Regions from separate parts of the Homo sapiens genome. Here regions 2, 3, 4, 5 and 6 are each linked to region 1. Evidence: fine-mapped expression QTL. A gene starts in region 1. Each other region holds a variant in brackets. All regions are shown on one strand. Distances are from middle to middle. Region 1 holds the start of STON1 (stonin 1). Region 2 overlaps FOXN2 (forkhead box N2). Region 3 overlaps FOXN2 (forkhead box N2). Region 4 overlaps STON1-GTF2A1L (STON1-GTF2A1L readthrough). Region 5 overlaps STON1-GTF2A1L (STON1-GTF2A1L readthrough). Region 6 overlaps LOC105374595 (a long non-coding RNA gene).

The links. PIP is the estimated chance that this variant, and not a neighbour inherited with it, causes the effect. A credible set is the group of variants that fine-mapping cannot tell apart.
Region 2: its variant is the best candidate, but not a certain one, in a credible set for the expression of STON1 in amygdala (GTEx, PIP 0.68).
Region 3: its variant is the best candidate, but not a certain one, in a credible set for the expression of STON1 in whole blood (TOPMed, PIP 0.75).
Region 4: its variant is the best candidate, but not a certain one, in a credible set for the expression of STON1 in prefrontal cortex (BrainSeq, PIP 0.51).
Region 5: its variant is the best candidate, but not a certain one, in a credible set for the expression of STON1 in tibial artery (GTEx, PIP 0.80).
Region 6: its variant is the best candidate, but not a certain one, in a credible set for the expression of STON1 in left ventricle (GTEx, PIP 0.59).

Annotation. Positions count from the first base shown.
Region 1 is chr2:48,528,374-48,532,462 of GRCh38, forward strand. STON1 (stonin 1) reads left to right here and starts at 1,781. Exons shown (of 4, transcript NM_006873.4): 1 at 1,781-1,843. It overlaps STON1-GTF2A1L (STON1-GTF2A1L readthrough), which reads left to right and starts at 1,552. Exons shown (of 11, transcript NM_001198593.2): 1 at 1,552-1,615. RefSeq lists an enhancer at 1,774-2,321 and a silencer at 1,913-2,112.
Region 2 is chr2:48,351,122-48,355,210 of GRCh38, forward strand. The region is part of intron 3 of FOXN2 (forkhead box N2); the gene reads left to right. Among named protein-coding and RNA genes, the nearest start is that of FOXN2, 38 kb to the left of the region's middle. RefSeq lists a silencer at 2,116-2,165. The variant T/G (reference allele first, on the strand shown) is at 2,385.
Region 3 is chr2:48,324,058-48,328,141 of GRCh38, forward strand. The region is part of intron 1 of FOXN2 (forkhead box N2); the gene reads left to right. Among named protein-coding and RNA genes, the nearest start is that of FOXN2, 11 kb to the left of the region's middle. The variant T/G (reference allele first, on the strand shown) is at 1,784.
Region 4 is chr2:48,551,034-48,555,122 of GRCh38, forward strand. The region is part of intron 1 of STON1-GTF2A1L (STON1-GTF2A1L readthrough); the gene reads left to right. The region is part of intron 1 of STON1 (stonin 1); the gene reads left to right. Among named protein-coding and RNA genes, the nearest start is that of STON1, 23 kb to the left of the region's middle. The variant G/A (reference allele first, on the strand shown) is at 2,253.
Region 5 is chr2:48,578,979-48,583,067 of GRCh38, forward strand. STON1-GTF2A1L (STON1-GTF2A1L readthrough) reads left to right here. Exons shown (of 11, transcript NM_001198593.2): 2 at 1,609-3,585. The coding sequence starts at 1,656. It overlaps STON1 (stonin 1), which reads left to right. Exons shown (of 4, transcript NM_006873.4): 2 at 1,609-3,585. The coding sequence starts at 1,656. Among named protein-coding and RNA genes, the nearest start is that of GTF2A1L, 37 kb to the right of the region's middle. The variant C/T (reference allele first, on the strand shown) is at 2,477.
Region 6 is chr2:49,308,697-49,312,785 of GRCh38, forward strand. The region is part of intron 2 of LOC105374595 (a long non-coding RNA gene); the gene reads left to right. Among named protein-coding and RNA genes, the nearest start is that of FSHR, 160 kb to the left of the region's middle. The variant G/A (reference allele first, on the strand shown) is at 1,960.

The DNA of each region.
Region 1 (4,089 bases):
ATCTCTGACAAGTTAACCAGCCAGTCAGTTGACTTCCTATTCCCTAGGCTCTCCTCTTCCCTAGGCAAGTTGCCCTTCCTCAACTCTTAACCATTACTGGAAGGTAGCTGGAGGAAATGAGAAGCTGAGGAGAAACCAGTGCCTTTTTCTGTGTTTAGGATATATTAAGCATAAGCACAATTAGTAGTTTTATCTGAGAATAAAAGTATCCTAAATAGATCCTGGCTGTGTGATTTCAGGCGCTCGAGGAGTGCCCTCCTGGAACGTCAGTTTCCTTCCTCAAAGCCCCGAGGGCAGGTTCTTAACACTGGCTGGAGGTCAAATAGGGTACTGACTATATTTCCATTTCACCAGCGAACTCCAAGGTCAAAAACAAGGCTACACCTGACAGAACATTTAAAAAAGAATTACACTGCTGTGCAAATACAAAGAAGTGTCCACTGATTTTCACCAACCCTGGGTGCACTGCCTATGAGTTAGCCCAGCTCCTCAAGGAAATTTACGATTAAAAAATAATTCATTGCCTTTCCACCTTCCAGCATAGTACTTCAAGTTGAGATGCTCACCGGGGCCTCCTAACCCCTCTCTTTGGATGCAACCCCTTTCTTCCTAGGTGGTCCATCCTACAGGACTGTTAAACCAATATTTCTTATTTGCCATTTTGAATCCTCAAGGATTCACTGAGTGCCTACTCTACACCTTCGCTTGAAAACTTTCAGAGATTTCCTGTATTCTGCTTCATGCCCAGCTCCACCTTCCCATCTAAACATTGCCCACTTACCCTAAGCCTTCCAGTCTTGCCAACCTCCAAAGCACCATGCCATGGGGCCTAAAATGCCCTCTTCTCTCCCCTCTGAGCCTGTTCAAACTCAGCTCAGTCTCTCGTCCTGGGTTTTGGTGTCTCTCCAGGGTAAAGGGGTGGGGAGGGTGCCTTCATTCTGACTGGCTCCCAGTGAGGCAGCCCCCCTTGAGGAAGAGGCTGAGATGCCAAGTGACTTGCCTGGAGTCATTTGCCAGCAGGCGATGGAATAGGGACTACGAGACACCCTGCAGCCTCTCCTGGGAGGACAACGCCCCTTCTCCCTCTCCATGCACTCTTGAGGCAGCAAAGAGGAGGCATCTGGACGCGTTTACCTCCTCCCCACCCCCACAGCTTGGCCCTCACTAAACTATCTTGTGTCCTTCCTCCTGCTATGATTGATTCGCCCAGGAAGGTGGGGCTTCATCTTTACCTTTCAAATATAATTCTTTAGTTCTCCTAATTACAAGGTGGGGGGTGGGGGGTGGGGGTGGGGTGAGGCGGGGGGTACAAAACAAAACAAAACTCCATGAAGCAACTTAGAAAGCACGACCGCAAAGGCCCTCCATCATCCCCACCCAGAGGTGAGGACAAGGTCTGGGGGTGCTGGGTGGCTTCAGACCTTCCACGGGTCCAAGCTATCTGCTTCAAGAGGGCATCGAAAGGTAACTCATAGACTTACCGCCCCCGCCCCCCGACTTTTGCAGGAGGGAGCGCTCTCCCCTCCTCTGGGAGGCTGGAGACTCGGGGACAGAAGATGCGCTGGAGGGAAGAGAACGGAGCGTCGGACACCAGAAAAACTTTGGGGGATTCGGGGTGAGAAAGAAGGCGTGAAGAGAGAAGGGAGGCTCAGCAGGGGAGGAGGGGCGGGGGCGGGGGCGGGAGCGGGAGGAGTCACTGCGCCGCGGCCGCCCCTCCCCGCCCTCCACTCGGCGGCCCCGGGTCTTCCTCCCCCTCCTCCTCCCCCTCCTCCTCCCCCTCCTCTTCCTCCGCCTCCTGGTGTGGCTGGCTGCGGCCAGAATCGGAGCCCCAACCGCGCTGCCGGTGAGTGACCAGCCCCAGGGGACAGAGACGGGAGGCCTGGGACCCCCCCTCTCCAGGGTGGGGCCTCCCGCCGTGTCTGGGAAAGTTTGCGGGCGCCCCGGGACGCGGGCATCTCCAGGGCCGCTCGGCGCCTCCCCATCTCCCCGCGCCCGCCCTGGCCGCCCCCAGGGGCGCCCTGGGGCCCGCAGAGGGATGGCCTCCCGGCAGGGACTCCTCGGCTCCCCTCTGTTCTGAGACTGCTGCTGGGACCGGGGTCCGACTCTAAAGAGAAAACTCAAACAGCAAAAAAAGGAATATCGACTCAGTTCCGAGGGCGGGGGCCGGGGCTCGTTCTCACCCGCGCGCGGCCCCTCGACCTCTCGGACCCGGGCCACCAGCTCTGCGCCCCTCACGCCTCCCTCGGGGTCTCTGTGTCTCTCTCCCGCTCCCGGACTCCCTCCTCCTTCTGACTGCTGTTATTTGGGCTGTTGTCCCTCCCCGCTCCCTGGTACCTCAGCTCGGACCTTAGCCTGTGCCTGCAGCCCGGAGTCCCCTCCTGCCCTGGAAGGCAAGGAGCCAGGCCACGGGGCCACAGCCGCGGGGGCCACCACACTGGCCCAAATATTTCCTGCAGGTATGACCATTCACTGGGTATTGGGGTTGGGTCCCTTGGACCCACAAACTGAACCTCGTGGGTACAGGGAAAAATTAAAATATATTCCTCCTTAGGATTGTACTGCTTCTGTTGGTTTGGCATCTTTTTATTTTTAACCCTTCTAACTGTGCTTTCTTCGAATAATAATGATACTTCATGTAATTAGCGTTTCTAATATCTAAAGACAGAAGAAGGAAGAAAATAAACGGAAGAGAGAGAATGCTTGCTAAAAATACTCATTTTTGACTTCAGTCCACACTCGACTGTTTTCCTGGGAGATAGAAGTTCAGTGTAGCTTGTTTTCAGACTAACCGCAAACACGATTACAGCCTCCTCCAGGCTAGAAGTTTTAATTTGCCTGACATGCAGCACACTGTTTGTTGGTATTCCCAGCCTGGCATTCCCGTCTGCATAGCTCTAGTCTCCCTCCCAACTCCCCCACCCCCACTTTCTTTCTCATAAAAGGGAGCTGTGAAAACAAGGCAATGGGAGAGGCTCAAACGAGCTGGACCACATAATAAAAACAGCCCTACTTATTTTAATCCTGAGGCTATGGACTCCCCTGGACTCTGATTGGGTGGAAGAATTGTTTAGTTCATTTGTGTGGTTTTTCTGTCAGTAGTTATTATGGTTGAATCAGTGTTTCCATGACAGTCTTGCTTCTGTGGGCACGATGGGGAGCCTGTTAATTCTCGGATGGGTCTGGACAGATCAAGTCTGGAGTCTGGAGAGATTTTTCAGGGCTTGACCTGGGCTGATATTGCAAACCTCTGCACACTCACTCAGAACCAGAGCAGCCGGGAGCAGCCTGAGCTGGGGTTTTCTTCCACATGATCTGGGAAGAAAAAGCTCTACCAAGGAGCGAACTGTGTGAGCATGGTTGCTGGGGGATGTTGAATGTTTTACGTTTTTAGGAAGAACACACTTCTCAAAACTTTAGCCATTCCTGTTTCCATACAAACAATAAATGTGGTTGTAACAAATGTAGTAGATCAGATTCTGAACAACCCCTTAAAAAACAGGTCCAAGTATTGAACCATTTGGAAATAAAGATTTTATTTTATTTGAATTCTACTGGAAATAAAAGAGTTTATGTTAAAAAGGATGTAATTCACTTCTCTCCACTGATGCAGTTTGACAGTTCCCCATTGGTATGAATCAGTTAGGTTTTATTGTGGTCTCAAAACATCATTAAGGCAGGGCACAACATCATTAAGGCAGGGCACGGGGTTCATGCCTATAATCCCAGCATTTTGGGAGGCCGGGGCGGGCAGATCACTTGAGGTCAGGAGTTCGAGACCAGCCTGGCCAACCTGATGAAACCCCGTCTCTATTAAAAATACAAAAGCTAGCTGGGCCAGGTGGCGGGAACCTGTAATTCCCAGCTACTTGGGAGGTTGAGGCGGAAGAATCGTTTGAACCTGGGAGGCGGAGGTTGCAGTGAGCCGAGATTACACCACTGCACTCCATCCTGGGCGACACAGCAAGACTCTGTCTAAATAAATAAATAAATAAATAAATAAATAAATAAATAAATAATTGATAGGCAAGTGTTGTGACTGTGACTTCCATTCAAAAAGTAAGTCCAAAAAAAAAAAAAAACAACAAAAGT
Region 2 (4,089 bases), 180 kb before region 1:
AGCTAATTTTTTCTAATTTTAGTAGAGACAGGGTTTTGCCATGCTGCCCAGGCTGGTCTCTAACTCCTGGGCTCAAGCGATCCACCTGTCTCAGCCTCCCAAAGTGCTGGGATTACAGGTGTGAGCCACTGCACTCGGCCAAAGTTGAATCCAATGTTTTTCGTTTTGTTTTGTGAGACAGAGTCTCCCTCTATCGCCCAGGCTGGAGTGCAGTGGTGAGATGGTTCCTGGCGTGAAGGAGTTTAAGTTTTAAAAAGTAAGAAGGCAAACAGTTAATCATAATACGATATAGAAAGAAATATCATAATAGCAACATGAACAGAGTCAGAGAGAAGTTGATTAATTATTACCTAGCACAGTGGTCCCCAAACTTTTGACGCTAGGGACTGGTTTTGTGGAAGACAGTTTTTCTGCTACCTGAGGTGGGGACATGGGATATGGTTTTGGGATGAAACTGTTCCACCTCAGATCATCAGGCATTAGATTCTCATAAGGAGCGCACAGCCTAGATCCCCTCACATGCACAGTTCACAATAGGGTTTGAGCTCCTGTGAGAATCTAATGCATGGGCTGATCGGACAGGAGGCAGAGCTCAGGTGGTAATGCTTCTCAACTTCCACTCTCCTCCTGCTCTGTGACCTGTTTCCTAAGAGGCCATGGACCTGTACCGGTCTCCAGCTTGGGGGTTGGGGACCCCTAAACTAAAAGATTTGGGAAATTTTTATGGAAAAGTTTGCCATTGAAGTGTGCTTTGAAAAAAGAGAACAGGTTTTAGAAGGGTAACATATGCCAAAGGGCAATAGTATATTCTGCTGGGAGTTTGGGGCAGTAGGCATATTCTCTGTTGGTGAGGAATGTACGAGAGCAGGGTGGAAAAGCAGAGTGATCCAGAATAGAAGTGTGATGAATATCATGCTTGGACTTCAGTTTTGGGCTTCAGTTGTTTGGACTTCAGTTTTGAGAGCAAACCAGTGAGAGTTTTTAAGCCAGGAGCATGATGGAGTTTCTCTGTATTTGACTTGTGACAGTGTGAATGATAGGGCAATATATTACCTTAAACAATATCTGAATTCATTTGCCAAAGGAATGTTACAGTTAGTAGTACCATGCAAACAGAGATAGTTTCAGTGAAGATGTGGGATTTGAACACTTTGTAATCATTGCCCTCCTTATGTCTAAATCCACTGACTTCTTTTCTGTCTTACTCAACCTAAAACTGCATTATATGACATGATTAGCTCTGGGAATTCATCTTTTCTTTGATTTGTATAACACTGTGCTTAATTCTTTGTTTACCTGTGTGGACTCTCCATCTTTTTCTTTTGCCACTTGCCATTTAAACTTTAGTGTTCACTATTTTGTCTTTTTTGTTGATTTAGTATTTTCTTAATCTCATTAATTCCCATGGCTTAATATGTCGTCTGTGATCTTATGACTTCTAGATCTTTCTCCTAAAGCCCAGACGTAAATTTGCAACTAATTATTAGATCTGGAGGTATCTCAAATTCAGTGTGTCCGAAATTGGACTTTATTCCTCTCTCTTCTCCAAGGATCTATTTGGGTCTCAGCTAGAAATCTGAGTCATCTTGGGTACCTGCTCTTTGCAATGCCTAAGTTATTTGAATGTCAAATTTGAAAGGAATATAGACATTATCCTGATGAACTTCCTTATTTTATAACCAAAAAAGTGAGATACGTGGTATTAATTGATCCTGGTCTAGAAAGCCTGTCAAAGCCAGGGGTTAGATTCAAGAAAAAGCAGTATCTAGTAGCACCTATAAATACCTACAAGTTGCTTTTTGATTCTGGCCATTTCTTTTAGTTTCTACCATAACATTGGCCTTAGTTCAGGTCTTCCCCTCATTTCTCATCAAATTGAACTATTATATAAGTTGAGGAGTCAGCATGAAGGATTGGATTCAGGTATGTTCCTAGATCCAGATAGATGTGTGACTTGGTAAAGTTAGACTCTCTGAGCCTCATTTTTACTTCAGTTTTTGTAACTAGTAACCTTTAGTAAATATGACTTACTAAATAAAAGCCAAACTTGTTAACATGGTTTTCAAGACCCTCCCCAGTTTGGCTTCTGCCTGTCTTTGCAGTTTTTTTTCTTCACTACTCCATGATCTACCCCCACAAGACTACTTGCTATTCCAGTATACTATAAATAGTCCTTGTTTATTTTGTTCCTCTATCTACACTGCATTTTCGTAATTCACTTTCAGTGGAGAGAACATTTCCTCAAAGCCCAGCTCAGAAGTCACCTCTCAAGCATTTCCTGCTTTTTTGTACTCATTTTGTGTTTTTATAGCATTCTGTTTGTTACCTTTATAACATACATATCCCAGTTATGTATAGATTTGCTTCTCCCACTAGGGAAGATA[T/G]GAGAGCTCTCTGAGGTCAAGGCCTTAGTAGAATAGTCACTTAAGACTGTGTGTGTGTGTGTGTGTGTGTGTGTGTGTGTGTGTGTGTGTGTGTGTGTGTGAAAGAGAAAGGGGGGAGTGATATTATTCAATAACCTTTTAAAAGCTCAGCATCTTTTTTCATCTTAATGCATAATTCTCTTTAATTGTGATGTGGATGAACATTTGGGTTTCTAATTTTTTGTTATAAACACTGCTACAGTGAAAATCATCTCCCTATCCTTCCTTCTCTTTGCCTTCTTTGAAATTGATCTCCCTTTATTCTTTTTCCTCTGTTGTGTTGGTATTGTTATCCTCTGTCTTTTTTTTTTAAACACTGTACATATTTCATAATTATTTTATGTAGTCTCCGTTTAAATTTACCCTTATAGTTAACAGTGTCATTGTTTGCTATTGTTTATGCATTTAGAATTTCCTTAGTGATTTTATTCTTGAATTGTGTCACTTAATTCTTTTATACTTTTAGAACTATTGTGTTTATACTTATGATGGTACATAAAAGGTAACCATCTACTAGGTACTTAGAAATATAGGCAGGAATAGAGGTGATGTGGTGAGATTACAGCTCTTAAGTTTGGAATTTATCAGCATTGCTTCTGAGTGGAATAATCTAGGAAAAGTATGGTGTAATGAAGCCAAGGAAGCTAAGCTGAAGTGTGAATGGCCAACAGTGTCAAATGTTGCAGAACACTTGAAAATGATTGGCTAAGAAGAAGTTGTTGAGAAAGTAGCAGCCAAAAGATTAGGATTCAAAATATATAATAAGTGCTGTGCTGGCTGGGCGCGGTGGCTCACACCTGTAATCCCAGCACTTTTGGAGGCTGAGGTGGGCGGATCACGAGGTCAAGAGGTCAAGTCCAGCCTGGCCAACAGAGTGAAACCCCATCTCTACTAAAAATACAAAAATTAGCTGGGTGTGGTGGCGTGTGCCTGTAATCCCAGCTACTTGGGAGGCTGAGGCAGGAGAATCACTTGAACCCAGGAGGCAGAGGTTGCAGTGAGCCGAGACTGTGCCACTGCACTCCAGCCTGGCAACAGAGCGAGACTTCGTCTCAAAAACAAAAAAAAGTGCTGTGCTGATAAATGTTTAACAACTGGCTAGGGACAGGCTGTTTAGCTTTTGCTAAATGTGGAGTTGAGAAGCAATGTTTACTATCAACAGTATACCATTATAGAAGAAACTCATATAATTTAATAAGAAAATGAAAATCTAATAGAAAAATGGGCAAGTATATGAATAGGCAGTTCACAGAGGAGGAAACACAAATAGGCAATAAACATAAACAAAGATGTTTATCTTACTAGTAATGTGTGTGAGGGACATTCAAATTAAAAGAACAAAAAATGCTTTTTTATCTATTAGAATTCAAAAATTTTAAATATTTGAGGACATGAGTAAATATTGATACTTTCACATCATTGATAGGAGTACATTAATATGACCATTCTTGAGGGCAGTAGTTACTAGAATTAGAAATGGGCTCTTCTTTGATCTAGCAGATCATATTCTGATTTCTCCCCTAGAGTAACATTCATAGTTGCATACAAGAAGATGTATGTGAAAATATTCACAGTGGTATTATTTTTAGTAAAAGTTACAAAACCATATGTCCAATAGTATGATTTGTGATAATACTCAAAAGGGAGTTGGTCACATCTATAATTT
Region 3 (4,084 bases), 200 kb before region 1:
CTATACTATTGTCATATGTCATCAACTATCTCTTAAGTAGAGACCTGAAATTTAGAAAGTGAAAAGGTCACAAAGTAGAATGGAAAACATAGTATAACGCATAGTATTCTGTACGTGAATGACAAATTGCTCAGTAATTTTTTTTTTTTTTTTTTGTGACAGAGTTTCGCTCTGTCTCCCAGGCCTGGAGTACAGTGGCACAATCTTGCTCACTGCAACCTCCTCCTCCTGGGTTCAAGTGAGTCTCCTGCCCCAGCCTCCCAAGTAGCTGGGATTACAGGCACCTACCACTTTGCCTGGCTAATTTTTGTATTTTTAGTAGAGACGGGTTTTGCCATTTTGGCCAGGCAGGTCTCGAACTCCTGACCTCAAGTGATTTGCCTGCCTTGGCCTCCCAAAGTGCTTGGACCAGTAAATATTTTAATGAATATCATATTTCATCCTTCAAATTTTTTTTTGTTTCATGTAGTTTGATTAAAATGACTTCTTTGTTTAGTTAAAACAAAACTTGATGTGGTATGATTTGGGTATAATTTTCCCTTTGTACTTCTATTCAAATTGGCAGCAAGTTAGAGCCAGGTTGTGCTTGCTTTTGAAGTACTCTGCTTAGGGATATTGAGTCCATTGTTTTCTATTTTCTTTCTTTGGTTAACGATACTTTTGACTTGGTGTGTATTAAGTATCTTATAAAATAACTTTAGTGTTTATGAAGTGATCTCATGTCTATTGTTTATTTTGGTCTCTTAACATAAATAACTACAGTAAAAAAGAGGAAATGTAAATGCAGTTGGAACACGGAGAGATTGAAAGACTCTAACAGAAAAAAGTTGGGGTGGGAATTATGTGGAGGAGTTGTCGTTAAATTAGGTCTTAAATATTAGGGTTTGACTGAATGATGAGAGGGAAGGTAGACAATCCAGTTGTTAGAATATCAAAAGCAAGCATATAGAGAAATGTATTTGAACAGGATTAGTATAGTTTGGACTGACTTCTAATACAGAAGCATTAGCTTGAGGATGTAGATACTGAATCAGTTATTGATTTTTGTTTGTTTGTTTGTTTTTGGTCTTTTGTACTTAAAAAGCAATCTAGGCAGGATGTCAGGCTAGTGTAGCAGTGAATAGTGTGAATTCTGGAGCCAGTACTTCCAGTTTGGAGCACACCGTTTAATCCTTCTCTATGTGTGTTTCTGCATATAAAATAGACACTAATAATGGCAACTACTTGATAGGGTTGTTATGAATAAGATTAAAAGAGTTAATACTAGTAAAGTATTTACAACAATACCTGTTACCAATAAGCATTCAATGAGTTTTTTAAATTTATGAAAGTACTAGCTCTTTCATTTTATGTGTGTGTGTGTATTTGTAATGTATACATACATGTGTGAGTATATATGGAATATAATGTGAGTGTATGTGGAATAAATACCGAAAGGAAATGTAGATCTCACATGTATGTATCTATAGGAAAGGTAGTAATATTTGAATTTCAGTTTTGATTAGAATTTAGATTATTATAATAAAGTCTAACATCTCATTTTACAGATGGAAAAATTATGTACTAGCAGAACTAGAACCAAGATTTGCCAGACAACAAATATTTGAGCAGTAAACAAAACAGACAACTAGCTCTGCCCTTATGAAGCTTTCAGTTAGTCAGGAAAGATATGTATTAAACCATCTCAGGTGTGACAAATGTTATCAAAAGGTTCGAGTACTATGGGAGAGTAGAACTGGGGCCCCTCCATAGTCTGGGATTTTAGAGAATTCTTCCCTCAAGA[T/G]TTCTTTTTTTTTTTTTTTTTTTTTTGAGACGAAGTTTTCCTCAGTCGCCCAGGCTGGAGTGCAGTGGTGCGATTTTGGCTCACTGCAAACTGTGTCTCCCAGGTTCAGATGATTCTTGTGCCTCAGCCTCCCAACTAGCTGGGGTTAAAGGCACATGCCACCACGCCCAGCTAATATTTGTATTTTTAGTATAGATGGGGTTTTTGCCATATTGGCCAGGCCAGTCTCAAACTTCTGGCCTCAAATGATCTGCCTGCCTTGGCCTACCAGATTGCTGGGATTACAGACATGAGCCACCGTGCCCGGCCTTCTTCTCCCAAGATCTCCAAGCTGTGGTGTGAATAATAAATAGCAGTTAGCCAGGGTTAGGTGGAATGAAGAGTGTTCCAGGCAGAGGGACTAGGATTTGTATAGGCTTTGAGAGAGGAGAAAGCATGGTCTATTCAGATATCCGAAATGGAGAGAACAAGGGAAAGAGTGGCAAAAAATGTGACCTGAAAGGTTAGAGCATGGCTAAAATACGCAGGGTCTTGTATACAAGGTTAAGGATTTTGACCTAAGGGTCCCCTTGATGGATTAAGCAGGTAAGGGACATTGCTAGATTTACATTCTGCAGTATTACATTAGTGTATTACAGAGAACAAATTAAGAGAGAGTCTGGCATAAGTTTAGGGAGATTAATTTAGGAAGATACTGTAGGAGCTACTGTGTGTGGTTGTGCAGAACACACCATAGGGGTTTCCATTCATGTATACTGGTTGAGCATCACTAATGCAAAAATCCAAAATCTGAAATGCTTCAAAATCTGAAGTTTTCTGAGTGCCAACATGCCACAAGTGGAAGATTCCACACCTGACCTAATGTGATGGTTTGTAGTCAAAATGCAGGTGCACAACACATAGTTTATTCAGCATCTCCAAGGGAAAAATAAAATTACCTTCAGGCTATTTGTATAAGATATATATGAAACATAAATGAATATTATGTTTAGACTTGGGTCCCATCCCTAAAGTATCTCATCATGTATATACAAGTAAATATTCCAAAGTCCCAAAAAATCCCCAATCCAAAGCATTCTGGTCTCAAGAATTTTGGATAAGGAGTGAGTATTCAACCTATACTACCTTTGGAGTGGTCTGGATGAAAGATAATGTTGACCTAGGCTATAGTTGTGACAGTGAAAATGGAGAAATGTGGACAGATTTCAGAGGTATTTCAGATTTAATGACTCCAAAATTTATCTCCAGACCAGACCTCTTTCCTGAACTTTACGTCACGTATATCCCAAATGCCTGTCCTACTTGGATATCTCACAAATGTCTCAAATTCAACAGGTTTTTAAAACAAAACAAAACAAAACACTGCAAACATTAATCTGTCTCCAAAAAGAAAAAAAACAGTCATTTTCTCTTCCAGTATTTATAGTAGCAAATAGAACTAACATCCACTCACTTGCTAACCATGTCTACTAGTAGTGACCACTAGACTACTTAGCTATATGTAGCTGCAGTTGATATGGCTTATTAGAATTTAGGTTGTATTCCATATAAGTTTATTTAGAAACATTTATTTTAGAAAGTATTACTTTCTAAAATGATCTGGAGATAGTCTTTTTTTTTTTGAGATGGAATTTCACTCTTATTGCCCAGGCTGCAGTGCAATGGCACGATCTTGGCTCACTGCAAACTCTCCCTCCTGGGTTCAAGGGATTCTCCTGCCTCAGCCTCCCAAGTAGCTGGGATTACAGGCATGTGCCACCACGCCCAGCTAATTTTGTATTTTTAGTAGAGACGGTGTTTCTCCGTGTTGGTCAGGCTGGTCTTGAACTCCCTACCTCAGGTGATCCACCTGCCTTGGCCTCCCAAAGTGCTGGGATTACAGGTGTGAGCCAACGTGTCCAGCTGGAGATAGTCTTTAATAACATTAATATCTTTAATAATTTTTTAGCATAAATATATTTTTAAGTCAGAGTACGTATGAGGTTAATGTAGCCCTATTTAAAATCAACTTAATTCTGTTAATTGTATTTTTGTTTTGTTTTTAGAATTACATATAAAATCAATATATTAAACCAATCAGTAGAGAGTCCTAAGTTTTACTCTTGCTTTCCAAATTTGACATTGGGGCTATTAGTAAGGTATCATTGTCTGCATTTATTAGATTTATTTCTGATCATGAATATACTTTTAAAAGATGCTTCTTTTCAGTGGAGCAATTTATTTGGCTATAGGTGATATACTGCATGACTATGACTTATATTCAAGGCATTGAAATATTATTATACATAAACAAATTTTGAT
Region 4 (4,089 bases), 23 kb after region 1:
TTATTTTTTCAACTTTTAGATCATTTTAGATCTAGGGGGGTACATTTGCAGGTTTGTTACCTGGGTGGCATTCACTCTAAGCCAATCAAGAACAACTTCTTCTTAAACCTGGAATTAACATCTATGCTCTGGTGTGTCCTGACTTGTGTCAGGCACCCTAGTTATGTGGCCAAGTGGAACATCGCAACAGGGAGAATGGGTTGGACTATAGATGGGTGTTTCCTGGGTAAATTTGTTATGGGTGAGAGGCTTGGGGACATAGTGCAACAAATCTGAGTCCTCCTGCAGTGAAGGAAGGTCATGCCCCAATGCTTCCAGGGCTGGGGTATGCAATTGAGCTCATAGTTCAAGTTCCCTTCCCTACTTTCCATGGCCTGTGCCATGACCAAGGGCCAAGCCCCTCTGACCCTGCCCCTGCCCCTGGCCTTGTCTTGTTGGCTCAGCTTGATGCCCTAGATACCTTCCTAACCTTCAGATGGTAAAGTCTCTGCCAGCTGTGGCTACCTGCCTGATTCTGGGGACGGGGCGCTTTGATGGAGATCCTGAGCTGTCTGGAAGTGAATTTTTCTCTGACAGAATGTCCTTTTGCTGCTTCCTCTCCCTTTCTTTCCCAGCCAGAAGCAGTTAGTCTCCCGCATTTTCCTTGGCATGGCTCTTGCCTTGCAAGGAGCATGTAAAAAACTCTGGGATGAGTCAGAACCTGGCTGAAGTGTCAGGTACATTTACCAAACATTGATTGGACTCCAGGCCCTCAGCCTATGCCAGGGCAGAGAACCCAGGCATGAATAAGATCCTATCATCCCCTGTGCTGGAGTTGCTCCCAGCCTAGAGACCTGAGGAGACACCCAGCCCACTGTGACAAGTGATGTTGGGAGCTCCAACCCGGATTCCTGGTCAGTCACCAACTTCACCTACTCTGAGGGTTAGTTCCTGGTGTCCTGTGTTTTGGGTGGACTCTCCAGGTCCTGACATCTGCCGTGGGAACCCAGCTCTGCTTTCCATGGCTGCATTGCCTGCTGCTCCAGTGATCTGTTGCTGCAGAGCAGCTACTCCAAAATGTTGAGGTTTTCATCAGCAGATGAATGGATAAACAAAATGGGGCATGTCCATGCAATGGAATATTATTCAGCCTTAAAAAGGAATGAAATATTGATGTAAGCTTCTGTATGGATGGGCCTTGAAGACATAATGCTATGTGAAATAAGCCAGACACAAGAGGACACATACTGTATGATTCCATTTATATGAGGTACTTAGAGTAGACAAATTCATGAAGACAGAAGGTAGAGTGGTGGTTGCAGGGGCTGGAGAGAAGATGAATGAGGACTAAGTGTTTTATGGGTGCAGAGTTTTAGTTTGGAAAGATGAAAAAGTTTTAGAGGTGGATAGTGGTGATGGTTACACAACAATGTGAATGTATTTAATGCCACTAAAGTGTACACTTACAGGCCGGGTGTGGTGGCTCATGCCTGTAATCCCAGCACTTTGGGAGGCCGAGGTGGGCAGGTCTCCTGGGGTCAGGAGTTCGGGACCAGCCTTGCCAACATGGTGAGAGCCCGTCTCTACTAAAAATACAAAAAAAAAAATTTAGCAGGGTATGGTGGCAGGCGCCTGTAATCCCAGCTACTCAGGATGCCAAGGCAGGTGAATCGCTTGAACCCAGGAGGCAGAGGTTGCAGTGAGCTAAGATGGCACCACTGCACTCCAGCCTGGGCAACAGAGTGAGACTCCATCTCAAAAAACAAATAATAATAATAACTAAATAAAAGTGTACACTTACAAATGGTTAAAAGGGTAGATTTTATGTATGTTTTATCACAGAAAACATGTAGAGGTTGAAAATCACAATTTAATATTTTCTCTTCTGGTTCTATGGGTTGACTGGGCTCAGCTGAGTGGTTCTTGCTTGAGGTTTCTCATGTAGTTGCAGCCTGATGGCAAATGGACATCCAAGGTGGTGCCTTGGAGTGGCTGCTCCATGTGGCTTCTCTATCCAGCAAAGTAGCTGGGCTTCTTACATGGCATCTCAGACTCTGACAAGTCAGAAACGGAAGCTTCTGGGTCATTTCAGGGGTATGACTAGAATTGTCACAACATCATGTTTGCTACATTGTATGGTCAGAGCAGTGACAGCGCCCACCAGATCCAAGAGGAGGGGAAACAGAGTCTTCCTCTTGATGGAAGAGGGGCAAGATGACATTTCAGAAGAGCAGGGTATGAAAGATATTGTTGCTGTGCCTTGGAAAACCTCC[G/A]GCCTGAAGGCTCAAGAGTTTAGACAGAAAGGCAGCTTCAGGGGGCAAATACCTCTCTGTAGACCCTTCCCTTCCCTTCTCTTCCCTTCCCTTCCCTTCCCTTCCCATCCCGTCCCATCCCCTCCCCTCCGCTCTTCCTCCTCCCTTTCTCTCTCTCTCTCGTTTGTTTTGTTTTGTTTTTTTCCTGTCCTGTCCTGTCCTTTCCTCTTTCCTTTTTTTGAGGTGGAGTTTTGCTCTTGTTTCCCAGGCCAGAGTGCAATGGCATGGTCTCGGCTCACTGCAACCTCTGCCTCCCGGGTTCAAGCGATTCTCCTGCCTCAGCCTCCCAAGTAGCTGGGATTACAGGCACATGCCACCATGCCTGGCTAATTTTTTTATTTTTAGTAGAGACACAGTTTTATCATGTTGGCCAGGCTGGTCTTGAACTCCTGATCTCAAGTGATGCACCTGCCTCGGCCTTCCAAAGTGCTGGGATTACAGGCGTGAGATACCATGACTGGCCTTAGACCCCTTCTTAGGAGAATTGATCCTCGTAGATTGTTTGAGTTTGAAGGGACCTTGGAAACTGCTTGATAGCAGTGACTTGTTCAAACTTACAAAGGCAGAGAGAAGCAGAGTTAGAAGAAAACCTAAATACTGGCTTCATGGTTCCCAGGCCAGGCAAATAGCTGTGGGGACTTCACCCAAAGGACTTCTGTGTGCTGTGAGCAGGAATACAAAGTCTGTTGGAGAGATGGGTGTGGGGAGAGAGCAGAACCCTGGGTGGTGTCCAGTGGAGACCATCCATCACCTTAGAGGTGGTGTGAGCTCCTGGTTGTGCTGGGCTGCATCTGTTGGGAGCTAGTGTGCCTTGCTGAGCTGGGCTGTGCAGAGGCACCTGAGATGACTTGGGCTTCCTGAGGAGGCTGGGTGTTACTCCTTTATTTTATTTTATTTATTTGTTTATTTGTTTTTGAGACAGAGTCTCTCTTTGTCGCCCGAGCTGGAGGGCAATGACACAATCTCGGCTCACTGCAACCTCCACCTCCCTGGTTCAAGCAGTTCTCCTGCCTCAGCCTCCCAACTAGCTGGGATTACAGGCGTGCACCACCATGCCCAGCTAATTTTTTGTATTTTTAATAGAGACGGGGTTTTACCACGTTGGCCAGGCTAGTTTCGAACTCCTGACCTCAGGTGATCTGCCTGCCTCGGCCTCCCAAAGTGCTAGGATTACAGGCGTGAGCCATTGCGCCCGGCCTTTTGCTTCTTTAAATTGGACTCAGAGTTGGGAGGAAAGAGGTTAGCCTGCCAGGGGCTCAAGCACCCAAGGTTGAGACTTAGAGATCTGTAAATTTACATATAGGCTAAGGTCGAAAATGTCAGTTGGCACATCCAGTCATTGGCTCCCACGTATGCGTTTCTACTCAAACTTTAAGTGCAAAATTTTTTTTTTTTTTTTTTATTTATTTATTTATTTTTTTATTGATAATTCTTGGGTGTTTCTCACAGAGGGGGATTTGGCAGGGTCATGGGACAATAGTGGAGGGAAGGTCAGCAGATAAACAAGTGAACAAAGGTCTCTGGTTTTCCTAGGCAGAGGACCCTGCGGCCTTCCGCAGTGTTTGTGTCCCTGATTACTTGAGATTAGGGATTGGTGATGACTCTTAACGAGCATGCTGCCTTCAAGCATCTGTTTAACAAAGCACATCTTGCACCGCCCTTAATCCATTTAACCCTGAGTGGACACAGCACATGTTTCAGAGAGCACAGGGTTGGGGGTAAGGTCACAGATCAACAGGATCCCAAGACAGAGGAATTTTTCTTAGTGCAGAACAAAATGAAAAGTCTCCCATGTCTA
Region 5 (4,089 bases), 51 kb after region 1:
TGGATATCAAGTTTTTTCAACACCACTTTTTTTTTTTTGTTTGAGACAAAGTTTCGTTCTCCTTGCCCAGGCTGGAGAGTAATGACACAGTCTCTGTTCACTGCAACCTCTGCCTCCCGGGCTCAAGCGATTTTCCTGCCTCAGCCTCCTGAGTAGCTGGGATTACAAGTGTGTGCCACCATGCCCAGCTAATTTTTTGTATTTTTAGTAGAGATGGGGTTTCTCCATGTTGGCCAGGCTGGTCTCGAACTCCTGACCTCAGGTGATCTGCTCTCCTCAGCCTCCCAAAGTGCTGGGATTATAGATGTGAGCCACTGCACCCAGCCCTCTTTCTTCCTTTTTTTTTTTGAGACGGAGTCTCACTGTGTTGCCCAGGCTGGAGTGCAGTGGCGCATTTGTGGCTATAAAGTTCCCTGTGAGTACTGTTTTGGTGTGCTGTGTTTTCATTTTCATTTGTCTCAAGATATTTTCTAATTTCCTTTTTTATTTCTCCTTTGATCCATTGGTTGTTCAAGAGTATGTTAATTTTCAAATATTTGTGAATTTTTTAGTTTTCCTTCTATTATTAATTTCTAGTTTTATTCCATTGTGGTTAGAAAAAATGTTTGTGTGATTTCAATCTTCTCACATTTGTTAAGATTTGTTTTGTAACCTAACGTGATCTGCTTTGGCAAATGTTCTGTGTGTGCTTGAGAAGAATATGTGTTCTGCTGCTGTTAGGTGGAATGTTCTGTATATGTATGGCAGTTTAGTTGAGTTTATAGTGTTCAAGTCTATTGTTTCTTTAGTGGTCTTCTGTCTGGATGTTCTGTGTATTGTTGAAAGTATGGTGTTGAAATCTCCAATTATTAGTGGGTGGCTATCTATTTCTCTCTTCAGTTCTGTTAATGTTTGCTTCATATATTTGGGTGCTCTGATGTTGGATATATAAATATATATATATTTTCAGATGGAGTTTCACTCTGTCACCCAGGCTGGAGTGCAATGGCACTATCTCAGCTCACTGCAACCTCTGCCTCCCAGGTTCAAGAGATTCTCCTGACTCAGCTACCTGAGTAGCTGGGATTACAGGTGCCCACCACCATGCTTGGCTAATTTTTGTATTTTTTTGTAGAGACAGGGTTTTGCTATGTTGGCCAGACTGCTCTCGAACTGCTGACCTCAGGTGACCTGCTTGCCTCGGCCTCCCAAAGTGCTGGGATTACAGTTGTGACCCACCATTCCCAGCTGGGTTAATATATATTTATAATTGTTGCGTCTTCCTAGTGAATTGACTCTTTTATCATTATATTATGTCCTTCTTTGTCTCCTATGATAGTTTTTGACTTAAAGTTTATTTTGCTTAAGCATGGCTACTCCTGCTCTCTCTTGGATAACATTTGCATGGAATATGTTTTTTCATCCTTTCACTTTCAGCATATGTCTGTCTTTAAATCTAAAGTGAGTACCTTATAGACAGCATACAGTTGGATCATGTTTTTTTTTTAATCCACTTAGCCACCAACAGAATTATAATTTTTAAGCATTTATCAGAAGTAAAGACATTTAGTAATGATTCCCCCCTTCATTTTATATACCTATTTTCTCTTTATTTTATTTTTTTAACAGAGTCAACCTATTTGATTTCTTGACAAGACCACAATCTGATCCCAAAGATGTGCTCCACAAATCCAGGCAAATGGGTCACCTTTGATGATGATCCTGCTGTTCAATCTTCTCAAAAGTCAAAGAATTTTCCTCTGGAGAATCAAGGTGTCTGTAGACCAAATGGACTGAAGCTGAACCTTCCTGGCCTCAGGGAATTTCCCAGTGGATCTTCCTCCACCAGCAGCACTCCTCTCTCCTCCCCCATTGTAGATTTTTATTTCAGTCCAGGACCTCCAAGTAACTCTCCTCTTTCTACACCTACCAAAGACTTCCCAGGTTTTCCTGGCATCCCCAAAGCAGGGACTCATGTGCTTTATCCTATTCCAGAATCATCTTCAGACAGCCCACTCGCAATATCAGGAGGAGAATCTTCCTTACTGCCTACCAGACCAACATGTTTATCCCATGCCTTGTTACCCAGTGACCACTCATGTACACATCCAACTCCCAAAGTAGGTCTTCCAGATGAAGTTAATCCTCAACAGGCTGAAAGCCTAGGATTCCAAAGTGATGATCTCCCCCAGTTTCAGTATTTTCGAGAGGACTGTGCTTTTTCAAGTCCATTTTGGAAAGATGAAGGCAGTGATTCCCATTTCACCCTTGACCCACCAGGAAGCAAAAAGATGTTCTCATCAAGAAACAAGGAGATGCCTATTGACCAAAAAAGCCTAAATAAGTGTTCACTCAACTATATCTGTGAGAAGCTTGAACATCTCCAGTCAGCTGAGAACCAAGACTCACTTAGAAGTTTGTCTATGCACTGTCTATGTGCTGAAGAAAATGCCTCTTCCTTTGTCCCCCACACACTCTTCAGGAGTCAGCCAAAATC[C/T]GGATGGTCTTTCATGCTGAGAATTCCTGAGAAGAAGAATATGATGTCTTCCCGGCAATGGGGACCAATTTTTCTGAAAGTTTTGCCTGGAGGAATTTTGCAGATGTATTATGAACAGGGATTAGAAAAACCATTTAAAGAGATACAGCTTGATCCATATTGTAGGCTTTCTGAACCCAAGGTTGAGAACTTCAGTGTAGCAGGAAAAATCCACACTGTGAAGATTGAACATGTGTCTTACACAGAAAAAAGGAAATACCATTCTAAGACAGAAGTAGTTCATGAACCTGACATAGAGCAGATGCTGAAGTTGGGGTCCACATCGTACCATGACTTCCTTGACTTTCTGACTACTGTGGAGGAGGAGCTGATGAAGTTGCCAGCTGTTTCAAAACCAAAAAAGAACTACGAGGAGCAAGAAATTTCCTTGGAAATTGTGGACAACTTTTGGGGTAAAGTCACAAAAGAAGGAAAATTTGTTGAAAGTGCTGTGATAACTCAAATTTATTGCCTCTGCTTTGTGAATGGGAACCTGGAATGCTTTTTAACCTTGAATGACCTTGAGTTGCCGAAGCGAGATGAATCCTATTATGAGAAGGACTCAGAAAAAAAGGGGATTGATATTCTTGACTACCATTTTCATAAGTGTGTGAATGTACAAGAATTTGAGCAATCAAGAATCATTAAGTTTGTACCTCTGGATGCCTGCCGGTTTGAGCTGATGCGTTTCAAGACTTTGTATAATGGGGATAATCTTCCCTTTTCCTTGAAGTCTGTAGTGGTTGTCCAGGGAGCATACGTGGAACTTCAGGCTTTTGTCAACATGGCCTCATTGGCGCAGAGGTCATCCTATGCTGGTTCCTTAAGGTCCTGTGACAATATAAGGATACACTTTCCTGTCCCATCGCAGTGGATCAAGGCCCTTTGGACCATGAACCTCCAGAGGCAGAAGTCTCTGAAAGCTAAAATGAACCGCCGAGCATGTCTGGGGAGTTTACAGGAACTTGAATCTGAACCTGTCATTCAAGTCACTGTGGGGTCAGCAAAATATGAGAGTGCCTACCAGGCAGTGGTATGGAAGATAGATCGGCTTCCAGACAAAAATTCAAGTAAATATTCAACACCCCAAGTTTATTTTCATGGGAAATAGCTTAAATATTCTTACCTTCCTCCTTGGGTTGAAACCAGGTAGAGACAGATGGCAATTTGTCAGCTGAGGCTGTGCTTTGGGGTAGGAGATGGAACATTTAGCTAAACAGCTGGTTTATTTGTTTCCTTTTGCACCTATTTCTACCAGATAAGTTTAACTGTTGAACATTTTTTAAATATCATACGAAATACCATGCTAGGCTAGGAATTTGTTGTGGATGGCGGCACTAAGAGAAAATTCGTTGATATCCATGGTTGAGATTAACGCATCAACTTCAAATGTTAAAAATATTTCTAATATAGCTGAGATTCCCTAATTAATCTCTAAAGATCTGTCATCCATGAATATACCTGAACTTCTTTGCATTCTCAGCTGATACCACTTCTTCCTTAGGTTTGCTCCCTGCTCTTTGAAATAAGACTGCTTTCATTTTTACCCAAATTGATTTTTGTTGACTGAATTC
Region 6 (4,089 bases), 780 kb after region 1:
AGGGAGGCCCAGTCTAATCAAACAGGTCCTTAAAAGTGGAAAAAAAAGAAAGAAGAGTGGTCAGAAAGATGAGGCATGAGATGGTCTCAATCTACCACTACTGGCTTTGAAGATGGAAGAAGGGCTTTGAGCCAATGACTATGGCAGCTTGCAAGCTGGAAAAGGCAAGGAAACAGATTCTTATAATATCCAGAAAGCAGTATAGCCCCAGTGACGGTTTTATTTTAACAAACTGAGACTTGTGTCAGACTTCTAACCTATAGAATTGTAAAGTTACACATGTGTGATATTTGAAACCACTAAGTTTGTGATAATTTATTATGGCAGCAATACAAAATTTAAAAAAAAAGGAAATTTAAAAACAAAACATTCCTATTCCTCCTTTATGAAGAAGCTTAAAAGTGACACTCACCTGCTTCCTTTAAACCTAGTTACTCTACCCCTGGAGAGCTCAGAGAACTCTATTTTACTACCATTCATCTTGTTTTACCTTATATTTCTACTGGATTGTGGATTCTCTGTAGGCATCTTTACATCTTCCATTGTATATATGCCAGGCACCGTACATGTGTTCACTTTATATACTAGGTGCTCTATGCATCTTTGGTAAATTACTTTAAATTGAACCATTTATTTGCATGAGGGGCAGCAACCAGGAAAGACAAGATTCCACTAATGTGTTCTCTTAGCCTGCTTAGCAAGCTTTCCACTGCAAAGATACATTAATGCTAGGGTTCTGAATAATGAAGCTGAGGTTGTTTAAAACAGCAGGCTGGCATCAGATGAAACATTTCCATATCATTCTACATTAAATAAAACATTTACCATTTCATGCTTTCTTTTCTGGTAATTTTGCCTTGTCCTTCACGTTAGTGATTTGTTCCACATGGCCACTCATTTAAGATAACAGCAGGCCAAGAGGTGTGACAAATGGAGACAGGGCCATACCTGATCACCAGGATTCCATTACGCTTCCTTGAGTTTAGAACTAGTAAAACTGTCAGTATCTTAAAACAAAGGAACTGTGCTTGAGTCTACATATTAGGAATTCAGTGACTGCAGTAGCAGTGATCGCATTATATAGCAAATGGACAGACATGGCTATAAAGGGAGCCTACAGTCAAAATAAATGAACTGTTTTTCTGTGTCCAGTCAAACAACAAATATTTTCCAGTACCTATTATATGTGTAGCCCTGTGATAAGTACTGCAAAGGGATATGAGGGGGAGAAGATAGATGCTTTATATTTCAAAAATATTTAACAGTGGGGAAAGAAAAGATTAGGAAAAGTAACACAAGGGTGAAACAAGTATATGCAATAAAAATTCAGTGGAGCGAGGGAGCATTTCACCAGGAAGGCTTTGGAGAATTGATAGGAATAAAGGTAGTAGTAACATTTAAGCATTAAGTTGGACAGCTGAAGATGTATGGTGTTGGTATGTGCGGGGTACATTCTAGGAAACACTCTCAGTCCCATTTGTCTCAAACAGGGTTTGTCAACCTCTGCTCTACTGACCTCCCAGTCTGTGTAGTTCTCTGTTGAGGTGGGGGGGGGGCATTGTAGGATGTTTAGCAGCATCTTTTGCCCCTACCAACTAGATGCCAGTTACTTTACCTCCTCTTGGAGGTATGACAACCAAATGTCCCCTGAGAAGCAAAATTGTCCCCAGTTAAGAACCACTGTCGTGGAGTAAAAGTTCAGAGAGAGGAGACATGAGAGTTACATGCCATGTCAAAGAGTTGGGAATTTCATTCCAAAGGTAATGAGGAACCACTGAAAACATTTATGCTGGAGAATGGCAAGTTAAAAAATTGTTTGAACGCAATTTATGTGATGGAAGCACCCGAGAAAAACTGGAGGGAGGTGTTGTAGGGAAAGGGAAGAACAACTTAAAAGCTATCACAATTGTCCAAGCATAAAATGAGGAGGTTTGGTGGCAGCAGAACTAGAGAGCACTC[G/A]GTGGCTATAGGTATTCTTTTTTGTATTTTTAAATTTTATTTTAAATTCAGGATGTACATGTGCATGTTTGTTACATGAGTATATTGCATACTGGTGGGGATCAGTCCTGTAGTATACCCATTACCCAAATAGTGAACATTGCACTTGATAGGTGATTTTTCAACCCTCAACCCCTTCTTCCATTCTCCCCACTGTTGGAGTCCCCAAGGTCTATTATTCTCCTCTGTATGTCCATGTGTACTCGTTGTTTAGCTCCCACTTATAAGTGACTGCGTGAGGTATTTAATTTTGATTTTCTGTTTTTGAATTAGTTCCCTTAGGATAATTGCCTACAGCTTCATGCTGCAAAGAACATGATTCATTCTTTTCATGGCTGCGTAGTATTCCATGGTGTATATCTACCACATTTTCTTTATCCAGTCAACCATTGATGGAAACTTAGGTTGGTTCCATGACTTTGCTATTACAAATAGTGCTGTGATGAACATATGAGTGCAGATGTATTTTTTATATAATTTTTTTTCCTTTGGTAGGTACTCAGTAGTAGGATTGCTGGGTTGAATGTTCTATTTTTAGTTATTTGAGAAATCTCCACACTGTTTTCTATGGAGGTTGAACGAATTTACATCCCCATCAACAGTGTCTAAGTGTTTTTCCCCACATCCTGGTCCTGTGTGTAAGCTTAGATGGAGAAAGGAACAGCCACAAGCAGCAGCTAAAGCAATCTGTAGCTTGGGAACCTTGGCTAGGAACGATTCACAGACTGTTGGTTAGGAAAAAGCAGTGTAGCAGCATAGAAGCAGGCATGTGGTGCCAATCTTCTGAGACCATCTTTCAGGCCCATGGAGAGAAACTAGCAGCAACTTCCAAGCCACCAGAAGCCTCTAAAACAATACATTTTCACTTTCACTCCATTCTGTCTATAAATTTTAAATTCATATCCAATTATGGTAAAAATATTTTAGTAAGTTTTTTTAAATAGTTAAATAGCACTGAAAGGAAAAAGAGGGGAATATATGCTTGGTTCTCCATTCTGTGGCCATTTTTGAAGTTCACTGAACCCAGTTTGGAATTTTGGAAAACCTGTTATTGTGGCTGAGCTCCATGGAAGGTCACTTCCTTCATGTTTTAAAAGTGACACTGAAACACAATAGGTAATTTTCCACGTTTAGGCTACAATGATATAATTAATTAATAAGATTTCCTCAACTGATTAAAAGTTCCATAAGGGCAATTACCACATCATATATTGTTATTCTCTACGTCTTTGCGCAGTAAAATAGGGGCAAATAACAGCTTACGCTTGTCACCTGCCTGAAGTTAAATTCACTGTTACTCATGAGCAAAATGACTTGTGAAAAGAATGAAGTTCTTGATATCACAGGTTGAGGAAATATTCTACCCAAGAGGCATGTGGTATATTACCTTGGAGCACAGGATCAGGAATCAGACAAACTGTGTTCAATTCCTGCAATCACCACTTCTATGTGTATGAACTTGAGAGATCTGTTTACTCTCAGTGCCCCAGACTGACACCTCACACGGCCGGGTACTCCTCTGAGACAAAACTTCCAGAGGAACGATCAGGCAGCAGCATTTGTTGTTCACCAATATCTGTTGTTCTGCAGCCTCTGCTGCTGATACCCAGGCAAACAGGATCTGGAGTGGACCTCCAGCAAACTCCAACAGACCTGCAGCTGAGGGTCCTGACTGTTAGAAGGAAAACTAACAAACAGAAAGGACATCCACACCAAAACCCCATCTATATGTCACCATCATCAAAGACCAAAGGTAGATAAAACCACAAAGATGGGGAAAAAACAGAGCAGAAAAACTGGAAACTCTAAAAATCAGAGCACCTCTCCTCCTCCAAAGGAACACAGCTCCTCACCAGCAATGGAGCAAAGCTGGACGGAGAATGACTTTGACAAGATGAGAGAAGAAGTCTTCAGATGATCAAACTACTCCGAGCTAAAGGAGGAAGTTCAAACCCATGGCAAAGAAGTTGAAAACCTTGAAAAAAATTAGACGAATGGCTAACTAGAATAACCAATGCAGAGAAGTCCTTAAAGGACCTGATGGAGCTCAAAACCATGGCAAGAGAACTACGTGACAAATGTACAAGCCTC